Regions from separate parts of the Homo sapiens genome. Here region 2 is linked to region 1. The links come from fine-mapping of genetic effects on gene expression. Tissue or cell type: whole blood. Region 1 holds a variant in brackets; the other region holds the start of a gene. All regions are shown on one strand. Distances are between the middles of the regions.

Region 1 (8,108 bases):
TAGTGAAACTGGGCTGACAAAGTTAGCTCACCCAGGGCATGAAGTACTTCCCCATATGAGCCACAAAAATTGTAACCAAAACACAAGTCCAGTCACTCCCCACTCCACATTTTGTAACCAAAACACAAGTCCAGTCACTCCAATTAACAGGAGCAAGGTATAAAGAAAGTGACATTTTATTCCAAAGCTTGCTTAGGGGAAGAGGAGCAGGATCTTGTCTTTATGGGTACCACCTCACTTTTGGAGCAGAAAGTGGGGTGCTTTTAAAGGGGGCCCAGCATGCTGGCATGAATGACATGCAGAGGAGTCAGTGAGCAGGTGGGGGGTCTGCATACTAGCCTCGGTGCCTTATCTACCGGGTGGTCAAGCTGGTAACTGCTGGTCCCTTTGTGGACAAGACTAGGTTGTAAAAGCAGCAGAAAATTCTCCAGGTGGGAGAGAGTTTCACAGTGGAAATACTTTAGGTAGTAGATGGACTGTTGTTTCTTTAGGCAGCCTCCTGGTAGGAGAGTTTCACTCTGGAGCTTCTAACAACCTAGTTAAATAAACTTGCCCTCTAGGGAGTGTCTGGTGAAGAGGAGGTAAAGGCTATAACTGCATTTCTAAAGACCTAAGTAGGAAGTGGGGAAAAGAAGGAGAGCGAGAAGAAGAAAGATAGTAAAAAACTATCTCTTAGAAAAATGAGGGTACACAGTTACACTATGATTAATAAAAAAAGGGATGGAAAAAAGTACACAACATGCAAAATCAGATAGATAATGTCAATACAGACAGAAACTATGAGAAAGAATCAAAAGGAAATGCTAGAAATCAAAGAAACAGTAGCAGAAATGAGGAATGCCTTTTGGTGGTTTATCAGTAGACTTGAGATAGCTAAGGAAAGAATAGGTAAACTTGAATATTGGTCAAATTTTTTTTTTTTTTTTCTGAAACGGGGTCTCACTCTGTTGCCCAGGCTGGAGTGCAGTGGCGTGATCTTGGCTCACTGCAACCTCCACCTCCCAGGTTCAAGTGATTCTCCTGCCTCAGCCTCCCAAGTAACTGGGATTACAGGCACGCACCACCATGCCTGGCTAATTTTTGTATTTTTAGTAGAGACGGGGTTTCACCATGTTGGTCAGCTGGTCTCGAACTCCTGACCTCGTGATCCACCCGCCTCGGCCTCCCAAAGTGCTGGGTTACAGGCGTGAGCCACTGCGCCCGGCCAGAATATTGCTCAATTTTAAAAGTTCCCAAACTGAAAAACAGAAGGAAAATAAATTTTAAAAAAGAATACAATATGCAAGAACTGTGGGCCAATATCAAAAGGTATAACTGAATACCAGAAGCATAAGAAATAGAACAGGACAGAAGAAATATTTGAAATAATACATGGCTAAGAACTCCCAAAACTAATGACAAACACCAAAGCCAACCTTTCTGTGGCTAAGCTTCCTGGCTCTAATTGAAGATAATAACGGTATCATCAAACTACAAATCCAGGAAGCTCAGAGAAGTCCAAAACAAACAATTAAAAATAAAATCCTACAACCAGGCATTTCATATTCAAACTGCAGCAAATCAAAGACAAAGAAAATCTTGAAGGAAGCCAGAAGGAGAAAAAAAAAAAAACAAACCAGAACTAAGGATACAGATTATATCAGATTTGGCTTCAGAAACACGTGAGCAAGAAGAGTGAGGTGAAATCTTTGAAATGCTGAAACAAACCCTGTCAACCTATATTTCTATATTCAGCAAAATTTTCCTTCAACGGTGAAAAATAAAGCCTTTTGTGGAGAAAACTGAGGGATTTCATTGCCAGCAGACCTGCCCTGCAAAAATGTTAAAGATATTCTTCAGAGAGAAAAAAAAATGATATAGGTCAAAAATTATACAAAGAAAAGCATTAGAAAAGGAACAAGTGAAATTAAAATAATATTTTTAATTGATCTAAAAGATAGCTATTTAAAGTAATAATAGTAACAATGTATAGGGTGACTATAGCATATGGACAAGTGAAATAATTGACACCAATGTCACAAGGAATGGGAGGAATGAATCGGGAGTAGTCTTATAAAGTTATATAATGTTATTTGAAGGTGGACTTATTTTAAAATATATATTGTAAACCCTAGGGATATTACTAAATTTTTTATAAAAGATATATGATATACCAAGTAAAGATATAAAATCAAATCATACAAAATGCTTAATTAACCCCAGAGAAGTCAGAAAAACAGCAGGAGAAAGAAATAAAGAACAAATGCAATGAACAGAAAACAATTACAAAGATGGTAAATTTTAATGCAACTATATCAATAATCCCTTTAAATATGAATGTTCTAAACACACCAGAGACTGTCAGGTTGAATTAAATTAAAAAAAAAAACTAGACTTACCTGTGTGCTGGCTACCACAAACCTACTTTAAATTTAAAGACTCAGAAAAGTTAAAAACAAAATGATAGGAAGAGAAATTCCATGGTAAATCGATCAAACGACAGTATCATATGCTCTGTCAATTATCAATTACTATATAACAAATAGCTTCAAAGCACGTTTACTTGAAAAAATAACTACTTTTTCATAATTCTGTGGATCAACAATTTGGGCTAAGGTAAGTAGAGTTGTTTTCATGGTCTCACTCTGTGGTTGCAGTCAGTTGATGGTGGGAATCGATGAACAGTCCAAGTCAATTTCCCTCACATATATCTACTGGTGTCTGGGCTGTTCTCTTCTTGCAGTCTTTCAACTTTAAGGAAACTAGTTTAAGTGTCTTAACGTGACAGTCTCTGAGCAGCTGGAAGGTGAGATTGGATGCTGCAACACTTTTTGATAACTTCCCCAGAAGTCACACAATGTTACTTCAGCCTCAATTTTACTGGTCAAAGTGAGTCAAGTTACTGACCATCCAGCTCAGATCAAGGGGTCAGAAGATGGAGTCTACTTTCTAATGGAAGGAGTTTAATTTTTAATGCATTATATATGTTGATACATCTGGGTTTGGAAATTTGAGAAGGTGAAAAGAGAAAGATCTTTTTGAGGGTTTTTATTCTAATTATTTTGCATTTTGGAATTTGGACAAGTTTAGCCAACCTTTCCGTGGCTAAGCTTCTTTGCTCTAATTGAAGATAATAACAGTATCACCTCACAGGATTGTGAAGATTCAATGAGATAATATATATAGCATGTCTAGAGGAGTACCTGGCTCGTGTAGGGCCTCTAAATGTTTATTATTATTGGCAATAAATGAACTTAGTTTCTAGCTTCAACATTGTCACGAACTAGCTAAGGTATGCTTTTCAAGACATTTAACACCCACAAGCCAGTTTATTTGACTATAATCTGAGGCGCTTATAATAGATGATCTCTATTGTCCCTTTTAATTGTCCCTTCTAATTCTACAGATGCAAATGTACTAATGTTTTACTTAGAAGAAATATTTCACATAGAAGAAACATATATCATATTTATGATTAACATGAGCATTTAAGGCTCTGGGGATGATTGGCTACAAATTATAGTGCAGAAGTCTTAAATTTCTTAGTACATCAGTGAACTTAGAAAAGAAATATTCTTTATTATTATGTATGTATTTATTTGTAGAGATGAGGTCTCACTACATTACCAGGCTGGTCTTGAACTCCTGTGCTGGAGCCATCCATCCGCCTTGGCCTCCTGAAGAGCTGGGAGCAGAGGCATGAGCCACTGCACCCAGCCAATACTCTGTATTAAACCATGATTCATTGAAGGGGAAGAGCTATCAAAAGTAAGTAATTTTATTTGTGAAGATTGTTTACCTTTTCTCAATTTAACAATGAATAGCATTTAGCATGTCAAAGATTATTACATTTCCTGAAATTGTTAGGTTGGTGCAAATGTGATTGTGGTTAATGGCAAAAACCACAATTACTTTTGCCCCAACCTAATAAAAAGCCAAATAAGGCACAAGCTCACCACCTCGGCAAACAAATATAGGGGAATGGGATGATATGAGTCTGGCGAGGTGAATAAACAGAGGCCAGATTGTACTGGTTTTTGTGAGTTACATTAAGACATTTTTGCTTTATCCTGAAAATAAGGGTAGAGAGAGACCCTTAAAGGGCTTGAAGCAGAAAAATCTTTTCAAGTGGAGGTGAAATTTGAGCTGGATCTTAAACTAGAAAATTTCATTGGTGTCAAAGGACAATATCAAAAAAAATGGAGTTAACGTTTGTGTTCAGATAATGGAAGAGGTCGTTATCTGTATAGGCCTGAAAGGATCTACAAGGTAATGGTAAGAAATGAGACCAGAAACACAGGACCAAATTGGAGATGACCTTCAAAAGAAAATGCTTGATTCCTGTGTTGACTTTGAAATGCTTAATTTCCTTCGAATCCAATCTATTCCACTACCACTTTACTTGTCTACTTTATGCTTTCTGTTCCCTTTGTAAAAGTCTCAGTGACTCCATGCTGCCCACAGAATAAGGTAAACAATTCCCAGTCCAAGTGTTATAGTTCTCTTTTGTATCCTTCCTGCCACTCCGCCCTGATTATGAAACCAGCAGACAGCCAGGCGTTAGCCCTCCTCTCCTTCCCCCAACCCCTGCCCTTTCTTCTCTTAAAGCCCTCTCTTCCTTCACAGCCTTAAGTATATATCGAAGTGTTCATTGGCTTAATACTTACCTTCAAGTTACAGAAGATCGAAAAGCCTGTTTATTTTGTCGGCATCATATTGCGTCAGTGTGGTGGACGCTGTGTTGGGCCGTAGAGCTCACCCTTGAGCCTGGAGGTCTTATCCCCCTCAGCTGCTGGGAGTGTTGTCAGTAGACAAGCCTCAGCTGTCAGGCCTCTTCAGCGCTGCCTCACCTAAGGTTACTCCCTTTCTGGGAG[T/G]AGCCCACATCCAGTGACTGGATGGAGGCAGAGGATAAAAGCCCTGCTTCATTACCCCAAGAATGGACAACAGCTGAGAGGCCAGGCTAGCTTCAGCGCTCTCTGTGAGTCAACCGAGGCTGTATAGGAACCATCTCCTCTCTCTCTCCACAATCCTCCTCCTTCGTTTTCCATCTACAAGTGCGATCCCAGGAGCCTGCCTTCACAAACATCATGGACATTAATCTCCCTCCCCAAGCCTGCTTCTCAACCCAGGACACCAGGAAATATTTTTGAATGAGCAAGTGAAAGAATGTCCAAAATATCCTGTACCTTTTGGGATGGGTACTGGCTAAAGTAATTACTGTTATCTGAATTGCCAAGCTAAGCATGTTAATGATTTTCTAATTATTTAAAGGACCATGTGTGAAGTCTTAATAATCTCTGTTGTACTCTCCTGCATTTGGTCATTGGTTCTTTGCTATATACTGATGCAAATTACTTTTTCCAAGTTTAAAAGCTTTTTTTTTTTTTTTTTTTTTTTTTTTTTAGGAATGTGTCACCTTTGATAACCTGGTGCTTTTATCTGCCTGAACTGGTTGGGAAAGTTCTACTAAATACAGTACTAAAGAAAGTTGGTTTGTCCACATTTCATTGGTGACATTCCCAGTGTAGAACCTTTTCATGCTTTGTTATTGAATAGCTCTCAAAATTTAAAGTTGATGCAATATTATTTGTATGCTGATGAAAATACTTGATGTATTTTTAAAATTTCAGTGGTTGACATTTTGGCCACTGGGTGTCATCACAGATCTAGGTTTTAAAATGTGCAGTTGTCACTTGCTGACTGAAATTAACTAATAGAGTCTGATGAGGCTTAATGGTACATCTTCATCATTTGACCTTCATACATTGAGTATCAATCTCCACTATAGGAAATTGTTTATAAAGTACAATTTGGATACTTTTTAGTCTTTCTTTACAACACATCACATGGATAGAAGGAAAATTTCTTCTAACAATGTCTGGAGTGAGCCTTGAGTGGGGAAGTGTGGTGGGAAGGCTGAGATAGAAAGAGGACACGTAAATGATTAAGCTACTGCCTTACTAGAGGACCAGCGCCAACCGAAAAGAAAGATGTATTCCCAGCCTGGTGCGGTGGCTCAAGCCTGTAATCCCAGCGCTTTGGGAGGCCGAGGCAGGTGGATCACTTAAGGCCAGGGCTGTGAGACCAGCCTGGCCAACATGACGAAACCCCATCTCTACTAAAAATACAAAAACAATTAGCCAGGCATGGTGGCGCACGCCTCTAATCTCAGCTGCTTGGGAGTCTGAGGCACAAGAATCGCTTGAATCCGGAGGCAGAGGTTGCAGTGAGCCGAGATCGTGCCACTGCACTCCAGCCTGGGTAACAGAGCAAGACTGTCTCAAAACACACACACACACACACACACACACACACACACACACGTATTCCCTAAGCTACCCAGATCTATCACCTGGTTACCTCAGGCCATTACCATGACCTCTATCTTAATTTCTTTTAATCCTCACAACCTCTATAAAGCACTTTTATTTCATTTATTTTACAGGTGTGGAAATTGAGGCACAGAAAGGTTAATGATTATACCCAGGGCCAGACACTAGGTGCTAGATCCAAAATTTAAGACAGGGAACATTCCCAAGGGTAGCAGATTATACCTTGGCGAAGGCTTAGGCAGTGTTTCCTCAAAGATGGTCCCTCAACCACTTTCATCAAAATCATATAGTAATTGCTAAAATATATATTCCAGCACCTTCCCAGTGCTACTAAATCAAAATTTCTGGGATAACGTCTGGGAATTGGCATGTTAGTAAAATTCCATCAGATGACTTTTATGCACACTGAATTGTGAGAATCTATTAGAGGAATGAAATTGTGAAGGCCCCCTTTTCTGGAAAGGAAGGAGAGAGAGCAGCCCTCTGAAAGCACAGCAGGATGGAATCCAGGCTCAGGAACCATCCTATAGTCTTTTTAATAGGTACTCCGTGTGCATTGGAGACTTTCTTCCTGATTACCAACAGGCCTCAGGTGGCCTCATCCCGCCCACCTGCCTCCAGACATACACCTGTTCGTTGGAAGAGACTCTAACTCACTCAAGTCACTGTGGGGAGCTTCCAGCACATTCAGATGCCTAGAATAACCCAGACCAATCAAACCAGTGTCTTTTGGTATGAGGCCCAGATAATTGCTATTAAAAATATTTTTCCCCTGTGATTCTCATGTGGAGCCGGAGTTGACTACTACTGTTCTTGAGCAACAATTCCCAAATGGAATTTTAAACAATTACTTCAGAGGTAATTAGCATGCTGATATTTTGCAAAATGTGCTTTGAGAAATGGTCTAAAAGATATGAATGTACAACTGGGAAAAGAATGCCAATGAAGTTAAAAAAGTTGGACTATGACCCCTCTAGGCAACATTAAACTAAGGCTGGTTTTGTGGCTCTGGAGACTGGGCAGCTTTGGACCATAAAGAGGGTGAGGGATCTGTCAAGGAGCCGTCAAGTTCAGCCATAGTCTCTCTGCTCATGCCTGATCCACCTGGCCAGAGGGCCATATTTTGCAAAAGATGAGACCCAGCTGGCTATGTGGGCATGCTGGACACATGCCCACCAGAACAATTGTACATTAGGTGTACCTATTGTGTCTGAGGAAACATTGCTTACCTATTGCAGCCTCTGAGGCTTCATTTTGAGCCCCATTCCTGGGTCCCCCAACACACAGATTCATATCTGCAGACCTCTATCGTCACACTTTTCTTATTTAATTGTCACCCTTCACTTCTGTATGGAGGCTCAGAAGAGATGACCCCATGTGGCTTAATCATCAGTATTTTCAGAGTTTGGTACAGCTCCTGGAGTCCCTTCTAAAGGACTTCCTATCCTTCCTTCATCACTGTAAAAAATAGTGGGATAATTCTTCAAAATGAAACCCCTTTGTGCCTGCTTAGCAGAAAACCTGAAGTACCTATGAGAGCCAGAGTAGATGACTGTGGCTGGGGAGTGACCTCACATCTCTTTATCCTGTTCCATACACTTGCACTGCATTCCTTATTCTCTGTGTTTCCAAGGGGTGGTGTCCCTGAGGGAGGCATTTCAGGGCGTGGAAATGGTACTGACCTGGATGGGCCCTCAAGGGGTCTTTCTGTACTACTTCCTCATTTTATGGAAATAAATATATTACTTCTTAAGTTTACTTCAAGTTTCATGTCTTGTATTTTATAGCAGAAACCCA
Region 2 (8,100 bases), 250 kb after region 1:
CTTTGCTGTTCTCTCTGCCTGGCATATACTTCTATCCTCACCTCTTACCACTATGCCACCCTACCATCCTTGGAGGCTTACTCCAAACACCACCTCCTCTCTGAAACCCGATTTCCCTCCCTTCAGTAGAATTAAATGTCATGTTCTGGGAACATCCCCAGCACTTCACTGGTGTTTCTATTGTTATAACAATCACGTATTAAACAGAGCTATGTGGCAAGCATCATTCCAGGCGCTGTCTATATGCTATCATGTAATTTTCACCACAAACTTGTAAGACATTCTTACAAGCCCCAATTTACAAATGGAGGAACTGAAGCTCTGAGATTGGACTTACCAATGATTGCACAACTAGAAAGGGATACAGCCAGAATTCCAACCATGTTCTGACAGCTCCCAAATCCATAAGGTTTTCACTCTGCTATGTTTCCTGTCTTTGATGGCCCTATTTCCAGTTAGTTAATTATATACATTATCTGTCTTTTCCATGGGATTATAGCAACTCCCTTGAAGACCAGGGCATGTTCATTTTCATAAATGTGGATAATGATATATCAATTTATACAAGATTCTTATGAGGATTAAATGAGACAATACATACTAGCATAGTGTCAGGCAGATAATAAGCACCTAATAACTTGTTAGCTTAATTGTTACTATTATTGTTACCATGTCAGGTGCCATGAATAAAGCCTTGCACATAAATTCTGAATTCAGGTTCATTTCTGAGGAGCAAATGAAATGGGTGAGGATCTGATGGAAGAAACAAACACTGCTTTGGTTTGGCATTTCCCACAGTATCACTTAATCAAAAGCAACAAGAATTAAGAAAGTTTCTATAATAGGATCTATTGATTCCTTTATCTTTCTATCACCACATAAACATTAGGAAAACTTCCTGTTCTATTCAAAACTCTTACAGCTTTCTTACTTTCTTCCTGCCATCTCCTTCGCAGTTTGACAAGGTTCTTCTCTGAGAATTCAGTACATATCAAGTACTGAGCTAGAAGAAGAAAATTACAAAAGTAAATGGAAGCACAGAGGGCAAAATAAAATCTTAAATTTTGGTGTTTATAAACATAGTGAAACACTCCCTTTTCTCTTCACAGAATTTAACCGTATGTTAAGTCATCGTATTTATTTGTGTGTCAATCATCCTCTACTAGGAGGAAAGCTCTTAGAGGAGGCAATCTATCCATCCTATTCACTGCTATCCCCCAGGGCCTAACACATATCTGATGTAGAGTAGTCACTCATGAAATATTGTTTAATTGACTGATTGCAAATGTTTGTATTTATGTATGTATACACATCTATATTTTTATACATACATGACACCATTCCATGATTTGTGAATAAATGCACCTATATCTCAACATATAAGTGCACCTTGTGCATTTGTGTGCATATATCTGTATTTATGCAGAAGATGTTTCAGACTGGAGAAAAACAGATGCTTGTTTGTCAAAGTTGTGTCTCCTTAACATGATAATGGCTTCTGACTGACTGGTCTAATATTTAACAAATAAACACTACTGCCATATACTGACAATCCAAATGTTAAAGAACATTAAATGTGCAGGTAAAAAATAATTAACTCAAACCATGAAACTTCTCCTACCTTTCAAAATGTCTTGTCCCTGTTCATTAGCGTTAAGTGTACATGGCTGGGGAGAGGGGTAGGGACCAATAATGTTTACCTGTAAATCTGGCAGGAGAAACATTCCAAATTCTCATGGGTTGCCCAGATTTCCTTATTTAAGTTGTAACATATACCAGAAATATAATTTATAACAATTATAAGGCAACCATTTTCTGGGTACACAATGTACCAGATACTTGGCATCAGTTTTTATTAAAAATGTAAACCTTCTAACAACTCTGCAATGTAGATAAACAAGAAAGCCAGGACTCAAAAAATATACTAACTTGCCAAAGATTCTCTGCTGTTTATCTAGTCACAGCATACTCAGTGTAGAAATTCAGAATTCTACTCTGAAGCTCAAACTTATTTCAATAAGCAATGGTGCCTTTTACATGGTTTTACAGCCACTAACTTTGAGGGATATGTGTTTAGGTAGTTTTCATAGTGTGTGGATTTTAATAAGTAATTCTCTGCACATAGAGACCAGACCAGATAACAGCCAAACACACTGAAAATTACTCCAGGCTACAGAAAGCAAGGAACAAATGTGTCTCAGAAACTATCAGCCTGTGTGTCTCAGAATTTGAAGCATTTTCCACTTGACTGTATCCTCCAACAAGAAATCTATCCTCTAAGAGGGCTTCATTATTCCTCCTCCTATATTAAAAAAATGGACTCTTTCATTGCAAACCAATGGGAAGTTCTTAACTCATTTCCTTAGATCACTTGAAATGAAAGTGCTTTCTGTCTTTAGGGAAAATAATTGCTGGATGTGATGCCTTTTGCCTGCTCTTGAGTCCCACAATCAATACTGTGAAGGAAAGAAAAAATTAACCCTTAGATACTTTTAGGAAGAGTGAGGTTATTTTTAAATTCAATGATGGTAGAGTTCTAAAAAGGGAGAAGGAAAGTCCTCCCTTCCAAGGAGAATGCAGTTGCCTTCCTCTAAACAAATTGGCTCTGTTATCTTTTTAATCCTCTTTCCAGGAGGAGGCCTGAGAAGGAGATGGAAACCATATGTTTAAAAAGTTTTTAAAAATGTATAGATGCTCCTGAATATTTGTAAATAACTGCAGTGAAAAATGTTTACATTAGAACTCACCTGCCCTTGCACTGATTAGAAAGATCCTCTACAGAGCAGAGGAGATCATTTCCAACCACCCAGACCACTACAATCACAGGAAGAAGCCAACAGCAGCATCTTCAGCCCCAGAGACTAAAGGTGAAAGGGGCACCTCGCAGTGGTGGAAGCACCCGTGTGTTCCCTCAACATGCCTGGGGAGGTGGAGAGGAAGGGGAAGCAGCTCTGCCTTCCCTCCAATCTAACTACACAACCCCTGCTGCCGTAACTTATTTTTAGACATTTAATCTAAAATTCCCAGAAAGGAAGCGGATCTACAACCTCTGAGTGATCCTCAGAGTTCTGATTTCCAACCTGGCTTGGGCATTTTGTTTGTTTTCTGACTTCAGGTGCCTACTTAAAGTACATCTCCCATCTTCCAGAGGCATCCACAGCCTAAGCCAATAAAAAGAGCTGGGAGCTTTGGAGCTTTAAGTGATGAAAAATCCAGCACCCACAGGTCAAAAGTAATGACCTTGGGGAAGTTACTCATCCTTCTAAAGAATCAATTTGTGGTCAACAAGATGAGATAATAATACTAGACAGCTGTTCGAGATTTCAACACAAAAATTGCACAGTATCGTCTCTTAGTAGACGTCAGTCAGTACTATGCACTTGCTGTGGGCACACTGCGCAAAGCTGCGGGATCCGTCCATGTTTCCACTGCCCATCACTCCGACGTTGGGGACTTATGTTACCGACTGTGCACTCCACCTCGGGGAGATGCCTTTTACCTGCTTCTTGTTCCCTACAGCTTCAAATGTCTGCAGAGCCCAAGAGGTAAATTCTTATTAAGTGCAAGAGACTAAGTTATCCTGGGTTCTCCTTCCCTCTGTTTTGTTTATCCGTAAATTGTTAAATAAAACTCCGCTTTGGGAAGAAATGCGTCGAGTCTTTACATGCGCAAAGCAGGTGTCTGCACATCTCTGGGGATCAGGGGTGGGGAAGGAACCCTGACTAAAGTCTCCAGGTTGGGAATGGCACAAATGGAGGGAAAGGACATGGAAGAGCGGATGAAAGGGATGCCTCTGCGAGACGGTGCAAGGCGGTCCTCGCCGGTGACCCTGTCCTCTGCACTCGGGGAGGAAAGGACGCTAGAGGGGAGGAGCCGCGAGGGCAGGAGTACCTGAACGCTCTGGCCGCGGTCTGGTTCCTCCTCCACGCCGTGCCCTGTTGCAGCACCCCCTGCACGATCTCTTTCTCGTTGGGCAGCCGGTAGACGGGGAAGATGTAGAGCCAACAGAGGACCACGACACAGAGGGCACTGGCTCCCATGGGCAGCCGGGTCCGCGGGAACTTCCACGCCAGTACAGCCATGGCCCCTCTGGACGTTTGTCGCCGGGCCCGCCCGCAGGGGCTCATCGCAGCCCCGGCGTCCCAGGGGCGGGGGCCGGGGCCTCAGCACAAAGCTAGGCGAAGTGGCAGCGGAGGGTCCCCCACCGCCAGCCCCCCATGCACACACACCTTTGGTTCTCTTACTTGCAAACGCACGCACGCTTCTTCGGCCCCGTCGGCCCCAAAGGTCAGCGCAAGGATTTTTTCAAATGCAACTTTTCCAAGGATTTCTTTCTAGGGGAAGTGGCTGGGGGTGAAGTCACGATCTATGGCCATGGTCGCTTCCCCTGCAGAAGGCGGGCGCTGGGGTCTCCGAGTGCGCAGAGAGCGGCGGCGGCGAGTCGCTCCCGCCGGTTCTGCAGCATCACGGTCGCCCTCGGCGAGGGTCCGGGAGAAGGCTCGGCTCCCTCCTAAACATGTGGCCCGTGGCGTCCCCTTGTCCCCTCCGAGCGATGCTCCTGCGCCCTTCGCCGCCTCCCGCGCTGCTGCGCCGCCAGGCAACCCCCCCCCCCCCACCCCGCCCCGAGACGCGCTCTCTGCGCCGCACCAAGTCCTTGGAAATTTCCACGGCGGCCCGGGACCGCTATCCTGCCCCGGGCTCCTCCGCCTCGCCCGCCGGGACCCTCGCTCCCCACCCCTCCCGGAGAAGAAAAGAACTCGCTCTCATCAGTTAATTCAGCGGCGCGCCGCAGCCTTCCGCTGCGCCCCGGACTTCGCAGACAAACGCCCGGGGATTGGTGGAAATCAAGGTCTCCCCCTCCCTCCCCCACCCGCAAAATTGCCTCCTTCGACCCGATCCGAGCCGCGACACTCGCCCAGAGCGCGCACCCCTCACTCGTGCCCTTGTTCTTTGGAGATAACGGCAGACAATAAAAACCAACAGCCCCCCGCCAATAGAAATATATCAGTCCCTGAGTGTGGCGGAGACTGGCTAATATCCTGATCCTTCGACAAGCGGCCGGTGTGCCCAGGCTGTCACCCTGCTGCCGTCACCCTAGTCTTTCTCTAGCTGGTTGGATATTAACCCGCAGCCAGGCGCGAGGAGGCTGGCGGAGATTTATTCCTTCCTGGGCCCCCACCCCCATTAGCCGGTCCCGGAGCCGCGGCCCGTGTGTGTGCGCGCGCGCCCGCACACACACACACACACACACACACACACACACACACACACACGTTCACGGGCGCAAGCGAGCGCGCGCACGAGGAGGTGCGTGCACTCCGGGGTCCTCCGCCTCGCCTCCTCCCTGAAAGGAAGTGCTGCATCCAGATGTGCAGGCAGCTGGTGCCCAAACACTAGACCTCAAGATGTCACATTGCCTTGGAGGCGCGCGGCCTTTTAGATTAAAGGACCGTTGGTTCTTAGACGTCCTTCTTGCCCTTCTTGCTTGTGATAAGCGATAAGCTTATCGCAACCCCGACCTTGGAAAAGCACCACCCGCCTTGACCCACCGAGCCGAGAGAGTCGCTGTTAGCCATTTCTGCTCGCCCCGGCGGCCGACGCATAGCTCGGGTACCTCCTAGCGGTCGCCTATTCTATTTGCTTAAGCATCTCGTCAAGCATAAAGTGTGCAAGGACAAAGAAGAAACCTGGTCAGCTTAGTCATCACGAAAACAAAATCTAAGGCTATAACTCCATTTGTTCAGCCGACCAGGCTGCGGTGTCTGGTACCTTTGTCTAGCATCCGTCTCCACTGAGAGGTGGAACTTGAGAAGTTGATGCAAAGTTATTTACCAAAAGCGAAGTAGCATCCCAGATGACCACTTTAGTGTCATTTTCTCAACAATACTGTGCTCTTAGTTGAGTGACCTACTGCCCTCCACCGGCAGGCATGCCCCAGAAATCTCTGTCCTACTTAGGTAAATCAGTAGAGACAGGGGAAACCTTGAAATCCCAGTCACATCTTACCACAGTGGAGGCTGATACAGATTCTTTAAAATGAAGATCATCTTAAGTCCTGCAAAGTAACCAGCCAACTCTCTTCTATCCTGGAAAAGGGGAAGGGAAGGGGGAGCTTTTCCTACTTGCCTGGGCTTTGGATAAATCATCTGCCATCTTTGATCTTATAATTTAAGTAAAACACAAACCATTCCCATTTTTCTTCCTCAAGTTCAAGGACTATTTGTAGAGTAAATAACAAAGAAATAAACTGACAAACAAAACTAGGGCATATTACAGTTATGAAGGGGCTATGTAAATGTTTCCCTATATAATATCATAAGAATGCATTAAAGTCATGCTTTACATCAAAAGATCTGTGTGACACAATGTGCTGTTTTTCTTTCTTCTGCAAACTAAGAATTCTCTTACCTTGGTGGGCTTCTGCCCACCCAACAATCCAAACTTATTCCCTGCTTTTTCTTAACATGAGCACCAAATCTAATCAGGTCATCGCTCTCACCCTTCCAAGTCACACTACATTGGTCCGTTCTCACATTACTATAAAGAATACCACTGAGACTGGGTAATTTGTAAAGGAAAGAGGTTTAATTGACTCACAGTTCCACATGGCTGAGGAGGCCTCAGGAAACTTACAATCCTGGTGGAAGGCAAAGTGGCATGTCTTACTTGGTGGCAGGCAAGAGGGAGAATGTGTGTGTAGGATGAACTGTCAAACACTTATAAAACCATCAGATCTCGTGAGAACTCGCTATCATGAGAACAGCCTGGGGGAAACAGCCCCCACGATCCAATCACCTCTCACCAGGTCCCACCCTGGACACAGGGGGGTTACGGAGATTACAATTCAAGATAAGATTTGGGTGGGGACACAGAGCCAAACTATATCACACACAGGTCTCAGTTCTGTCACAGTGTTGTGATCCGCTCATGTGATGTGTGTTTGTTTTTGTTTTCTTTTTCTCCCCATGTATAAATCCAGTGCATTATTCAAGACCAAGCCAAGTTATCTAGAAAGTTCTCATTCAATAATGTGTTCCCAGGACACCTAAAACACAGACTTTATGAGAACTCAATAAATATTTGTGGTATCTGCTTCTACTCTCTTTGACCTCCTGTTCTGATGTCATAGTATTTGCTGGCTCTGACTGATGATTAAACACTTAGTTGTGTTGTGTTGTCTTGTATTGCTAGTATTTTTCATATATAACTATGTCTCACCAACTAGGCAGGAAGGGGATTTAGTTTTATGTATCAAATGAAAAGCCTGTGCTTTTGATCAAATTAGGACTCCACAGGGCATGGCTAAGTGTCTAGGAGAAGAGCAAGAACAATATTTCACATTTTCTTCATGTTCCTCCAGGTATCAACTCAGGCACTTCAACAAATAATTGTTGCTTGGTTTTATAATGAGATCCTCAAACTTATTCAGTCTATTGCCAAGGCATCACTGTTTAAGGAAAAGTATGAACCCCCAAGTTTTAATGTTTTAAATAAAATATTTTAATTGATATTTAGCCATCTTGTTTGTATGACTTATAGTAAGTAGCTTAGGTATTCTTTTATACTTCTGCATCTGAGTATGCTTAGCGGACACAAACAGGATTTCCTCAGGGACTAAACAACTTTTAAAACTCTATAAATGTGTAGTAGAAAAATGTAAAGGCAGGAGTCCAGATTAAACAGAATTGTCAGTGATTTGAGATAAAATTTTAAAAGGCCAATCTTCAGTCTCTGCTCAAGTTCTTCTTGTCAGAATGGCTTGGAATGGCCAGTCAAAAGCATAAAATGATGCCTGTTTCACAACCAATTACAACACCAAGGTAAATAAGGTTGTAGATTGAGAAAGGTTATAAATATAGTTTATCTGAATAAATGCATTTATTTATCTCCACTCCCTATTGTGACCTCACTAAAAGAAGAGTAAAGGAGTAAAAGTGAAAAAGATTCAGAAGAACAAGAAAAAACGAAGGAATACAAAAGCAGACAAAGGATGTCAAAAAGTTCACAAGCAGGAAAGCAATTAAACAAGTGTTAACTGACTTATCAGGAGAGAGAAAGGTCTGGGCCTTCAAGTAACTCTGTGTGTGTGTGTGTGTGTGT

What was found. PIP is the estimated chance that this variant, and not a neighbour inherited with it, causes the effect.
Region 2: it holds the start of ST8SIA1, and the variant in region 1 is fine-mapped to the expression of ST8SIA1 in whole blood (TOPMed, PIP above 0.99).

Annotation. Positions count from the first base shown.
Region 1 is chr12:22,077,740-22,085,847 of GRCh38, forward strand. It overlaps LOC105369690 (a long non-coding RNA gene), which reads right to left and starts at 4,788. Exons shown (of 5, transcript XR_931423.4): 1 at 4,647-4,788. The variant T/G (reference allele first, on the strand shown) is at 4,854.
Region 2 is chr12:22,330,106-22,338,205 of GRCh38, forward strand. ST8SIA1 (ST8 alpha-N-acetyl-neuraminide alpha-2,8-sialyltransferase 1) reads right to left here and starts at 4,602. Exons shown (of 5, transcript NM_003034.4): 1 at 3,892-4,602. The coding sequence starts at 4,127. LOC105369151 (a long non-coding RNA gene) reads right to left here and starts at 3,885. Exons shown (of 2, transcript XR_931426.3): 1 at 2,748-3,885; 2 at 1-1,003.